Homo sapiens: one gene and its partners. The protein of the gene in region 2 purifies or fractionates together with the protein of the main gene of each other region. This does not show direct contact. Each region holds a gene or a part of one and is shown on either strand. Other genes may lie near its edges.

What was found.
Region 1: the proteins of SDK2 (region 2) and CD9 purify together in Homo sapiens (co-immunoprecipitation; one large-scale study listed by IntAct). This does not show direct contact.
Region 3: the proteins of SDK2 (region 2) and TSPAN15 purify together in Homo sapiens (co-immunoprecipitation; one large-scale study listed by IntAct). This does not show direct contact.
Region 4: the proteins of SDK2 (region 2) and ZSCAN18 purify together in Homo sapiens (affinity purification with mass spectrometry; one large-scale study listed by BioGRID and IntAct). This does not show direct contact.

The regions. Positions count from the first base shown.
Region 1 is NC_000012.12:6,224,399-6,227,920, forward strand, and holds part of CD9 (CD9 antigen), read left to right. Parts: intron 1-1,027; coding exon 1,028-1,136; intron 1,137-1,740; exon of another isoform or gene 1,741-1,962; intron 1,963-3,522. UniProt on the Homo sapiens protein: Integral membrane protein associated with integrins, which regulates different processes, such as sperm-egg fusion, platelet activation and aggregation, and cell adhesion.
Region 2 is NC_000017.11:73,399,942-73,403,463, reverse strand, and holds part of SDK2 (protein sidekick-2 precursor), read left to right. Parts: intron 1-1,322; coding exon 1,323-1,518; intron 1,519-1,711; coding exon 1,712-1,810; intron 1,811-2,252; coding exon 2,253-2,444; intron 2,445-3,522.
Region 3 is NC_000010.11:69,503,460-69,505,832, reverse strand, and holds part of TSPAN15 (tetraspanin-15), read right to left. Parts: intron 1,396-2,373; coding exon 1,348-1,395; intron 1-1,347. UniProt on the Homo sapiens protein: Part of TspanC8 subgroup, composed of 6 members that interact with the transmembrane metalloprotease ADAM10.
Region 4 is NC_000019.10:58,083,334-58,085,793, forward strand, and holds the end of ZSCAN18 (zinc finger and SCAN domain-containing protein 18), read right to left. Parts: intron 2,047-2,460; coding exon 1,352-2,046; 3' UTR 523-1,351; downstream 1-522. UniProt on the Homo sapiens protein: May be involved in transcriptional regulation.

The DNA of each region.
Region 1 (3,522 bases), on a different chromosome or scaffold from region 2:
CTGGGTGGCCCTTCCCACTATTGCCACATCTGCTGTCCACCCAACATGCCCACACTCACTGCCATATCGTAAGGGAAAGGAGAGGAGGAAAGGAGGAAGGAAAGAGAGGCCTGTCCACACCATGGGCTATCAATAGCTCCTGGAGCCGAGAACCAAGGTCCCTGATGAGCGGGCTCTGACATAAGAGTGCCTCTGTTGAGGAGGGTGGACCAGCAAAACCTGGGCCCACCCACTCCTGCGTCCAGCCGGCTACCACACTGGAGGCCTGTGAGTCACTCCCCCGGCAAGCCCTGGTACGGGTGACGACGAGGGAGCTCAGCTGGCACTGGGGGGACTTGGCAGGAGGCCTCCTGCACAGCATCTAGTTCAGCAGTGCCAGCGAGGGGAGGCCCTGGCATGTCATTTACTGAGCAGCAGGTCTCCAGGGACATTGCAGCTGCCCTCCCTGGTGCATGTGTGTCCGGAACTGTGTAACCATCACCCAAGTCAACAGTTAGAATACGACACCCCCAGCCACATGGCACCTCCCTGAGCATAATTTCCTCCTCCACCTAAACATCACCACTCACCTGATAACAATGCTTTTCCTTTATCATTTATAGGCACATGTAAGCGTCTAGCTCTGTGTGCATCCCTAAACAGCATAGCGTTTTTAACTACATGGAATCATATTGTGTGTGTGCCTGTGGCTCTGGCTTCTTGGTTTAGCATTGTGAGATGCACTCATGGTGTTGCGTGTAGCTAGAGTTACTCGTTTTCACTGCTGTATAGTGTTCTGTTGCCTATAAAATACCCCTTCAGCCAATGGGCGGCAGGTAGGTCACTGTTTATTCCTCGCTTGCTGGTATTTTTAGTACCTGCATGAATCAAACACACCCCGTAATGGCATCTACAACTACCAGGCGTATATGAGGGGCAGAGACCAAGGGTGGTCACAAAGTCCTTTGCAAGTCTCACCCTTAAGCGCGTGGGGACTGTGTTGTTGCTGGCAGCCAGAATTAATGCTGATGTCCTGTATGTCTTGCAGCTTGCCGGGATTGCTGTCCTTGCCATTGGACTATGGCTCCGATTCGACTCTCAGACCAAGAGCATCTTCGAGCAAGAAACTAATAATAATAATTCCAGCTTCTACACAGGTGAGGGACGGGGAAGGCTCAGTGAATTCAGACCCTGGCTCCAACAAAGTTCCTGCAACTTTGGAGGCCCCATGTTGACCCAGGGACTTGGGCTTGGGAAAGACTTTTGCTCTAGCCACGCTGGCCAGTCGTGTCCCTTTCAAGTTGTGCAGTTTTTGTGTGTGTCGTTGTGCCTGGGAATTTGCGTTTAACTGATGTGGTTTCTTTTCCTGATGGCCAAGTCAGGCATGTTGATGGTTCTCTGATGTGATGTAGCCTCTGCCAAAGTTGTACTCATTCTTGAGGGTTTACGAACCTCTGTTCTCATCTCTGATGCTCTCTCCTGATTGTCTTCTTATCCTGCATCATTTCCTTAATTCAAAAAGCTTTGTCCTGGGGATCTGCAGTGCTGGAAGAAGATATAGACAGCTTTCCTCTTCACTGTTCAGATAGGGACTCTGAGACTGGGAAAAACATCAGCCTCCTGGAAAACACAGCAACAATAGGAGAGACTAGAATGGACTCTGCCCAGTCCTTTGGACCCCTGGTACTGGGGTAAATGCTGTAGTGTTTAGTTTTATTTGTTTGTATTTGACACGACTTTTGCTTTGGGAGAGAGGCTTCCAGTTTAAACCTGCCTGGGATCCTCTGAACATGAACAGACTTGGCAGGTTTCTTTCTACACTCAGGCTTCTTGGCAGCCTTGCTAGACCATTCTATCCCTCTCGTTGCCGTATCACCACGTCAAAGCTCCCTTCAGAGGAGGGGGAGCCTGGTGCCTGCCAAGTGCAGTTGCCCGCGTCTGCGTGAATTCAGACTCTGCGGCTGTACTCTGCCTGGCTTGGAGGTAGGAAACTTTTCATTTGTGAGGAACAAAGGAAACCTCCTATTTTTAGGATGACGCTGACATGTTGTCAGGCTCAAAATGTAAGTTTGGTCACTTCCTTCCCACCCACCAAAAAAGTTATTTTTACAAACGAGGGAGAAAACAGTTATCTCCCAGTCCCTCAGGGAGAAGCAAGGCTGGCCAGCCACGTAGACCTTCCCTTTCCCACCTCTTGAACTGGGTAGGGAGAGTCTTTAAAAACAGCTCCTTTGGTTGCGTAACATTTGAGCCCTGTGGATAGTTTTGCTGGGTTTACTGCTTTTTATTGTTAGCTGGGGTTTTTTGGGGTGTGTCTCTCTATTATCGGAAAGAAAGTGAGAGAAAGCACAATGTATGTTTAGAAAAAAAACTACACATACACACAGAGTTTTTGGGGAACAGGTTTCTATAGCGCCCTGACTTGTTTTGGCAACAGACCATTTTTTGGGAGTCTGTGACAGGCTTAGAATGCTGTCCTGCAGAGCAGGAGGGAGGAGCCGGGTGCGGGTGCTGGGGAAGACTCTCCACACTCCACGCCGTGTTCCAGAAGGGAGCCCTGTGCTGGGGGAGCAGGTCTGCCGGCAGGAGCAGGCACAGTCAGGCCTGCTTTCCTAAGCAAAAGCCCTGTGGCCGGCGCGTGTGTCTCCAAAGAGAGACTCAGTCCTCCCTTGTCCTGGCTGCTTCTAACAACCCACTTTTTCTTTTCTGTTACCCAAAGCCTCTATGGCTGATTCTTTATATTTTTAGATGTGGGAGTTAAGAATCTCATGGGTAAGAGGATGGAACTGGGAGGAAGACACTAACATTTTTATTTTTTATTTTTTTTATTTTTTTTTTGAGACGAAGTTTCAATCTTGTTGCCCAGGCTGGAGTGCAATGACACAATCTCGGCTCACCGCAACCTCTGCCTCCCAGGTTCAAGCGATTCTCCTGCCTCAGCCTCCTGAGTAGCTGGGATTACAGGCATGTGCCACCATGCCCAGCTGATTTTGTATTTTTAGTACAGACGGGGTTTCTCCATGTTGGTCAGGCTCGTCTCCAACTCCCGACCTCAGGTGATCCTCCCGTCTTGGCTTCCCGAAGTGATGGGATGACAGGCGTGAGCCACCTCGCCCGGCTGGAAGACACTAACATTTTTGAGCCCCCTTCTTTGTGTGTCATTCATTGTCTTGTGTGTATTATATAATTTAATCCCCTTAGCTCTACGAGGAGTGTGGAGTGATTCTCATCTCACAAGTGCAGAAACCGAGGCCTAGAGAGCTGAAATAACTTGTCTAAGCTTATATTCCCTCAAGAGGCAGGGCCAGGTTTTGAACCCAGGCCTAAAAGAGCTGCTTCTCGGGTTGTCATTGCCAGGTTGTGGGGTCTCCCTCTGTAGGAATGGAAGAGGTCTGTACTGGCTGAATGTGCCCCATTGGCAGGGATGGGGTGGCGCTGTCTTGGCCCTTTTACTTCACCCAAATTGCAGTCAGGGAGAGAAACCCCTGCGTCGGTGGCCCAGCCAGCAGCTGACAGGTGGGAAAGCTGCAGGGTGGCAGGAGA
Region 2 (3,522 bases):
GTGAGGTGAGAGCAGGAGGCGAGACAGGCGGGAGGGGGCGGGGGCCAGGTGTGATCTGCAGAGGGGAGATGAGCAAGAACTTGAGGGATTTCCAGATGGGACTTTCTTGCCGATGCCCCGCCTCTACTTGATATTTAAGATGGAAATCCCAACTTAGAAGGAGTGTAAGAGGATAATAGTTACCCACAAACTGAAGTTCCCAGCTCTGTAGGAAGTAACCCTTGGAGAGCTCCAAAGACGAAGCTGCCCCAGCTCACATGGGGCAAGATGTAGGAGCTCAGGGCTTGGAATCCCAGAACCAGCTTCCCCCTACCTGTGTGAGCCTCTTTGAGCCTCAGTTTCCTCATCTGTAAAATACAGGGTTGGGCTGGGCACAGCGGCTCATGCCTGTAATCCCAGCACTTTGGGAGGCCGAGGCGGGCGGATCACTTGAGATCAGGAGTTCGAGACCAGCCTGGCCAACATGGTGAAACCCCCATCTCTACTAAAAATACAAAAATTAGCCGGGCATGGTGGTGCATGTCTGTAATCCCATCTACTCTGGAGGCTGAGACAGGAGAATCACTTGAACCCGGGAGGCAGAGGTTGCAGTGAGCCTAGATCTTGCCACTGTACTGCAGCCTGGGCGACAAAGTAAGACTCTGTCTCAAAAAATAAAAATAAATAAATAAATAATAAAATAAAATACAGGGCTGGGCCGAGCATAGTGGCTTACACCTATAATCCCAGCACTTTGGGAGGCTGAGGTGGGAGGACTGCTTTAGCCCAGGAGGTTGAGGCTGCAGTGAGCTGTGATCATGCCGCTGTACTCCAGCCTGGACAGCATAGTGAGACCCCATCTCAAAAAAGGAATACAGGGCCGGCTTCATGGGTGTGCCACCTGTGCAGTCGTCCAGGGCCCCACGTTTGGAAGGACCCCACACTTAGTTAAATGCTCTGATGCTATCATCTTAAAATTCTTAGTCGTTTTTGAACAAGGGCTAAATTTTTCATTTTGCACTGAGCCTGCAAATTATGCAGCTGTTCCTGGTGAAATGCCTCCCTCCTGGGTCTCTGTGAGAATTGAGTACGAGGCGATTCCTGGGAAGCACCCAGCACGGTGCTTTGCATAAAGTCAGTGGCTCAAGAAGTGGAGAAGCGCCCCAAAGTGAACCCCAGTACCCCGCAGGTTCCCTGCACTGCCTGTCCCTTCCCTCGGAGGAGGCACCACAGGGACTCCGGTCCCCGGACACCATCTGTTGATTGGCCCAGCCTGTGGGAGAGGGCTTGGCCTCCTCTGGAACCTTCCTGCTGCCCTGTGTGACTTGCTCGCCTCTCCGCAGCTGATCGCCTGGGAGCCGGAACAGGAAGAGGAGGTTACCATGGTGACCGCCCGGCCTAACTTTCAAGACAGCATCCACGTGGGCTTCGTGTCTGGCCTGAAGAAGTTCACCGAGTACTTCACCTCAGTGCTGTGTTTCACCACCCCCGGGGACGGGCCACGCAGCACCCCGCAGCTGGTGCGCACCCATGAGGATGGTAGGCACCCCCCAGCCCTGCTCTTTCTGCCCCCCCCCGCCCAAGGCCAGGCTGGGCGCCCCAGGCAGAAGGGTGGCCCAGGCTTGTCTCCCAGGCTGAGATACCCCCAGATTACCACAGGCTATCTCACAGATGGTGGTCTCTCTCTGGCTCTAACTGGCCTTGGGGGGTGGGGGTTCCTTTTGGGGTGCAGTGCCTGGGCCCGTGGGACACCTGAGCTTCAGTGAGATCCTGGACACATCGCTGAAGGTCAGCTGGCAAGAGCCGGGAGAGAAAAATGGCATCCTCACAGGTAGGCACTGCAGTGTTTCTGAACCAGAGGGCAGGACAGGGCTGGGAAAGGTCAGAGCTGGTCCATCCCCTGCCTTTGAGCTACTTTTCACCCAAACTCTTGAAGCCAACCCATGCTTTCTTAGAAACCACTCACAGGAGGCTCTTGGCACCTCCACTTCATAACACATCCCAGAGTCTGCAGCCCCACACCTTCTGCCACAGATCTCAGTGGCTGCCATGATGACTCACTATGTCCCCTGCAATTCCCTAAAGTGCTGGCATCCCACTGAGGCGACACCTGAGACCCAGGGCATGATGCCAACAGCTCCCACCTCCCTTGGCCCCATTGCTCCCAGCGTGGATCTAATTGCCAGCCTAGTGGAGAAGTGAGAAGTGGAGTAGTGGGTCAGGCCAACTTGTGATCACAGCCAAGCTCATGCCAACACGGCGGCTCTCCCCAGGGTACCGGATCTCCTGGGAGGAGTACAATCGAACCAACACCCGTGTGACCCACTACCTGCCCAACGTGACCCTGGAGTACCGTGTCACGGGCCTCACCGCGCTCACCACCTACACCATCGAGGTGGCCGCCATGACCTCAAAGGGCCAGGGCCAAGTGTCCGCCTCCACCATCTCCTCTGGGGTGCCCCCAGGTAAGTGCCCACTCTCAAGGCAGGACTCTTTGAGTTCTCCTGAGCAGCGTCCCATTCAAGAGGCCCCTTGTCGGCTGGGCGTGGTGGCTCATGCCTGTAGTCCCAGCACCTTGGGAGGCTGAGGCAGGCGTATCACTTGAGGTCAGGAGTTCGAGACCAGCCTGGCCAACGTGGTAAAACCCTACTAAAAATACAAAAATTAGCCAGCTGTGGTGGTGCATGCTTGTGATCCCAGTTAGTTGGGAGGCTGAGGATGGAAGATCGCTTGAACCCAGGAGGTAGAGGTTGCAGCGAGCCGAGATCACACCACTGCACTCCAGTCTGGGTGACAGGGCCACATCGCGTCTCAAAAAAAAAAATAAAAAGAGGCCCCTTGTCTTTCAGGAATACCAGCGTTCTTCCCACAGGCTCTCCCCTTCCCTTGTGCTGTGTGGGTCTGGGTCCCCTCAGAGCAGGCGGAATCCCTGGGATCCCAGGTCTCTGGACAGGGGCTCCCCTGGCTCCCTGCTGCATCCTCCCACAGCTCTCAGAAAAGCAGAGGCCCCCTGCCTTGTCTCATTTCCCCACCAGTCCCTCCCTTCACCCATTTCTCACCAGATTCCACACCAGGCAATGGTATCTGTGATTCAGGGGAAAATTTCCCACTGTCGCCCAGAGGGTCCACCTTGGATTCCAGCGTGTGGAAGGGTTGGTTGGGAGGTGGCAGAGCACGGTGGGGCTACTCCTAGGCCTGGCACAGAGAGCAAGCCGAGGTCCACTCTCAGCTCTGCTTCTGCCAAGCCCTACAACCTTGAGCAAGTTCTGTGTCCCCTCTGTGCCTCAGTTTCCCCATCTGTATATATGGGAAGTTGGACCAGATAACCATGTGGTCCCATCCAGATCAGTCAGGCAGTGCTTGTTTGACCTGCCAGCATCCCTCCACCTGCTGCGTAGATGGCTGGGCTGCCTGAGTCTCAGCCAAAGCCCAGTGATAATTACAGCCATGCTGGCAAATAGGTATGTAGTGTTCACGGGGCATGGTGCTGGGAGCTTTGCTCACGTTGACTCATTTAATCCTCACAACAACCCTGAGGGAGGT
Region 3 (2,373 bases), on a different chromosome or scaffold from region 2:
TGCCTGTGTGCTTCTCAGATGTCCCTGCATGAAAAGCCTCACGGATGTTTTCCATACATGAAAAGCCTATTTATAATTATCCAAGCCAATAGCCCCACTCCAGGTACATATAAAAAACAAAGCAGAGTTGGGCATGGTGGCCAGTGCCTGCAGTCCCAGCTACTATGGAGGCTCAGTTGGGAGGAGTGCCTAAGCCTAGGAGTTTGAGGCCAGCCTAGGCAACAGTGAGACCCTGTCTGTCTCTTAAGGGAAAAAAAAAAAAAAAGCATTTCTGCATTGGTTTTAATATACAAAGAATTTTCCAGAAGTACTACTAGGTAAATTAAGGAATGATTACACATTATTTAATTCAGAACTTTATCAAGAATTGTTCACCGTTTTTAAAAACCATGCCAGTGGCAAAAATGATGCCCATGGTATGTGAGTCGCCAACACAATGCCCAGTATCAGCTGCCCTGTAGCTACTACAGCCTCAGGGATGCCTCACATCAGTGCAGACACCTGACTACATTGTGTCTTCTGCACCCCCCACTGCCTAAGCACTTACATGATGAACTATGTTAAACAGCTGTAAATTGCTGTATTTCATTTCTACTTTATCTCAGATCATTATGTTAATTGTATTGGAATTGGGCATGTAGGTAGGTTATCTGTGAATTTCACTTGGGGATAATAAATAGGACATTACCACTGTTTGTTATAAAAATGGCCATTGGTTCTGAGGGGCTGAGAACCACTGCTGGTCTATGGCTCTCAAGCATGTGTCAGAATCACCCACTAGCCCCATACCAAGAATGTGCATTTCTCACATTCCTAGGGGATGCTGTTGCTGCTGGACTGGGGACCCCACTTTGAAAGCCACTGCTCTGCATGTCAGGTCACTATTCCTTTTAGGTCCCTTCTCAGCACCACCCCTGCTTCTCTCCTAGACCAGGGGTGTTGCCCAGGAAGCTGACCCAGGAGCAACCCCCAGAGGGGGTTACCATCCTCTAGGACTCCTGGGTCCCAGGTGGCCCCAGGGGCAGAGGCAAGCTGGTGCTGAGCATGGCTGGGCACACAGCACGCTGCGGGTACCAGGAAGCGCCGTGGTGGCTTCATGTGGAACAGCCCACAGTAGGTGCTCGGCAAACCCTGACAGGCGGCATCTCCCAGCCTGGGGGAATTCTTGGTTCCCTGAGCCCTTCTGTGCTGGGGTGGAAAACCACAGCAGTCCTGGCTCTGGGTCACAGCCAGGAATGTGGGAAAATCTCAGTGGCCAGGACCCCGACCTCAATAAACCCCTCCGATCACCCCAGGGTGGACCAGGAAGAGCAACATTTCCAGGGAAAGGCATTTCAAAGACATTACCTCCTTGTCGATAGTTTTGTAGCCACACATGGTGTTGACAACTTCTGTCTGAAATGGAAATGTATAATAGCTAATATTTATAATGGTTCTAACTCAAAAAGGCACTATTATCCTACCCATTTTACAGATGAAAACCGAAGCACAGAGTTGCACCGTCCAGCAGGGATGGAGCTGAGATTCCGACCCAGGCAGTCTGGCTTGAGTCTCCATCATAACCACCTCCTCCTCCAAGAAATGCCCCGTGAAAAAACTGTAGGAATGCAGGTTCCATGACTTTTACCTGGGAGAACCACCCCTCCACTAGCAGCAGATCAGGACCCCAGAGAAAGGTGTGCTGCCCACGCTCCCGGGCTATGACCGCCCCAGAGCACCGCTTTGCTCACACCGTCTCAGAGGTCGGGGTGGGGCTGTTCCTGCGCCGCTGGCTCTTGGGGAGGAAAACTTCAGACTACAGCTGGCACAGGGTCAGCTGTGGTTTACCTGAGGTCCAGGGCAGGGCCCCTGGCCATGCTTCCGTTCCATAGACCACTGCTCCACCAGCGGAGAGTGCTGCCAAAACTTCCTTCTTGGGAAGAGAGGTGCTCTCCAGAACTCCCGACTACTGATTAATTTAGGCATAGGGAAACCTGTGGTCACGCCCTAGACCTCATCAAACCCCTCCCCAGGCAGGCCCTAACTCACAGGCTGCCGCGGGCACTTCCCATCACCACCTGTGCCCCGCAGGGTCTCCTTCTCCAACCACCAGGGAAGAGAGTGAGACTTCCTGGTCCAGCCCATGACCGTCCCCCCCAGCCCCGCTGCTCTACATGTAAGTGAACGCTGCCGTGAGTGCTGCAGGCGCCAGTGATGACTCAGGAGGGCAACAGCAGAGCCCCCAGCGTGCCCTCTGGTGTCACATTTCCTGGGTCCAGATCTTGCTCTGCCACTTAGGAGCAGAGCCCAACCTTAGGTGGGCTGCTAAGGAACTGGCACGCAGAGGTACTCAATACATATTTGTTAACTGAGAAAATGAATGAATGAATAGGT
Region 4 (2,460 bases), on a different chromosome or scaffold from region 2:
TTTTTCTTTTTTTCTTTTTTTTCTGAGATGGAGTCTTGCACTGTCACCTAGGCTAGGGTGCAGTGGCACAATCTTGGCTTACTGCAACCTCCGCCTCCCAGGTTCAAGCAATTCTCCTGCCTCAGCCTCCTGAGTAGCTGGGATTACAGGCACGCATCACCACAGCTGGCTAATTTTTTGTATTTTTAGTAGAGACAGGGTTTCACCATGTTGGCCAGGCTGGTCTCAAACTCCATGATCTGCCTGCCTCAGCCTCACAAAGTGTTGGGATTACAGGTGTGAGCCACCACGCCCGGCCCATGAATAAGTACTTACTAAGTCTCTGTGATTTGGGGGTCATTACAACAGACTGCCTGCTCAAACACAGTGACAGAAAAAGAGGCACCAGTTTCTGTATCTACAGGGAGCAGTTAAGTTTATGCGCAGGGAGCAGTTAAGTTTATGCGCAGGCAATGGGAATGATACTGTAATCTTGAGAATAAATGCAATCAATGAAAAGATCACCTTATGTAGCCCAAGGAGTTTAGTCTCCTTTGCTCAGACAGACAGATCTTTATTAGTGTTTTCAACTTATTTTGCTCACAACTTCCCAGCAAGAAATGTCTTACATTGCAACCAGTTCTCACATTTAGATGTATGGGTGAAAAGTTTCACAAAACAGTATTTGCCTTTACTACATGATGCATTCTGGCCTACTTTATTCTGCTTCATTGCTGTGTAATGCTGGTGACCACTTGCTAATTGATTTCCCATTTTACTAAATGGGCTGGGACCCACGGTCTGAAAACCCTGCCTTAGGCTGCAAGCATTTCTGTGATCTCTGCGAGCTACTCCATATAGGTAAACACACGCGAGGTAAACTAGGAAACAGCTTCTGCTTTTGCAGATTAGAAGTGAAGTTGACATCACGCCAAGTACGAAAAGGCTAAACAGCTGACAAAATTTCCACTTGAGCAACCCTGGGGAGCGCAAACAGGAGGAATCGGGGCAAGGGTGACTTGAAGAAAGCACTGGCAGATCACGCACTTTAAGGCAACTCTACACTGCACAATGTCAAATAACCTAGCATGGGGCGGCACTAAATGGCTGCAGGAAAGCCGAGTCTTCTTCCACATCCGGCGGCTCCCCTCGGATGCGAGCGCTGGCCCAGGGTGTGTTTACAGAGGTGAGGGCTTCCCGTGGACCCTTCTCGTTGGGAGCGCTTAGCCTCAGGAGCGGATTCAGGGCACAGGCAGAGGACGTCCACAAACACCACAGGAAGCCGCCACCCAGGGGCGTGGAAAGGCCCAATGCCTCGTCTGGGATTCACGGCCGGCAAAGCGGCCCCTCCGGAACGGGACAGCACAGCGGCTCACCTCTGCGCCTCTGGGGGTGCGGGGGGAGCCTCGCCCTCCACGCTCTCTGGGGGACCGCCCGCCCTAGCCCCCGCCTGGGCTTCGCGGGTGGACGGTTGGGGGCCCCGGGCGCCCCCCAGCGCGTAGCTTTTCTCCTTCTCGTGGGTCTTCTGGTGCTCGGCTAGGGCCAGGCTGAAGTGGAAGGTCTTCCAGCAGCCCTGACAGGCGTAGCGCTTCCGGCCGCCATGGCTGCTGTGGTGCTCCATCAGGTGCGAGAGCCACGCGAAGGCCTCCCCGCACTCGCCGCAGGCATAGGGCTTCCCGCGGGACAAGCCCGGCTCGTCAGCCCCAGGGCCCTGCCCGGCCTCCAGCCCTGCGCTGTCGCCGGAGCTAGAGACGCCCTCGAGGCTCTGCCCGTCCCCATCCTCGGGGTGCGGCCTCTTGGTTCCCAGTTTCGCCGTGCCCCTGTCCGGGGCAGGCTGCTGGATGACGGACTGCCTCTGCGATCCGGTGGCAGAGTCGGACTCCGCGTCCTGGGGGTCCTGCGGGTCCGGGGCCTTCCCAGGCTGCTCTTCCTCCTCCTCAGTGGTGCCCGACGGGGGATCGGCAAGGGCGTCCCCAGGGGGCGCCTCCGTAGGCAGCTCAGGCAGCACCCCCGCGGGGGCGGCCTCCTCGCAGGCGCACCCAGCGCTCTCCTGCCGCCTCCCGCCTTCTGGAACAAGGTCAGAGCCCTAGCGTGAGCGCCCCGCCCAGGGCCAGGGAGAGGAGGACCCAGCCGAGCCTCAGCTGCCGGAACAGCGCACAGGGCTCCGGGCTCTGGATCCCCGCGGGGCTCACGGCTGTTTGGAAGCAGCGCTGTCCCTCCCAGGCAGCCCTGCAGCGCATGCCCCGCGCCTGCTGCTGCAGATGTGGGACCTGGAGGCCTCCAACAACGGAGGCCACCGACAGGACAGGAAGGACAGCCCCACTGAGCCCGGGTTCTGGAAACCGCGCCTTTGGAGGTCTCCACCTGGCCACTAGCTTGGCCACAAGATGCACGATGCAAGGAGAGCCTGCTCAGAGCGCACCCTCCTGGAGGGAGGGGCCCGGCTGCCAGCGAAGAGAGTGGGGTCAATAGCTAAGGCCA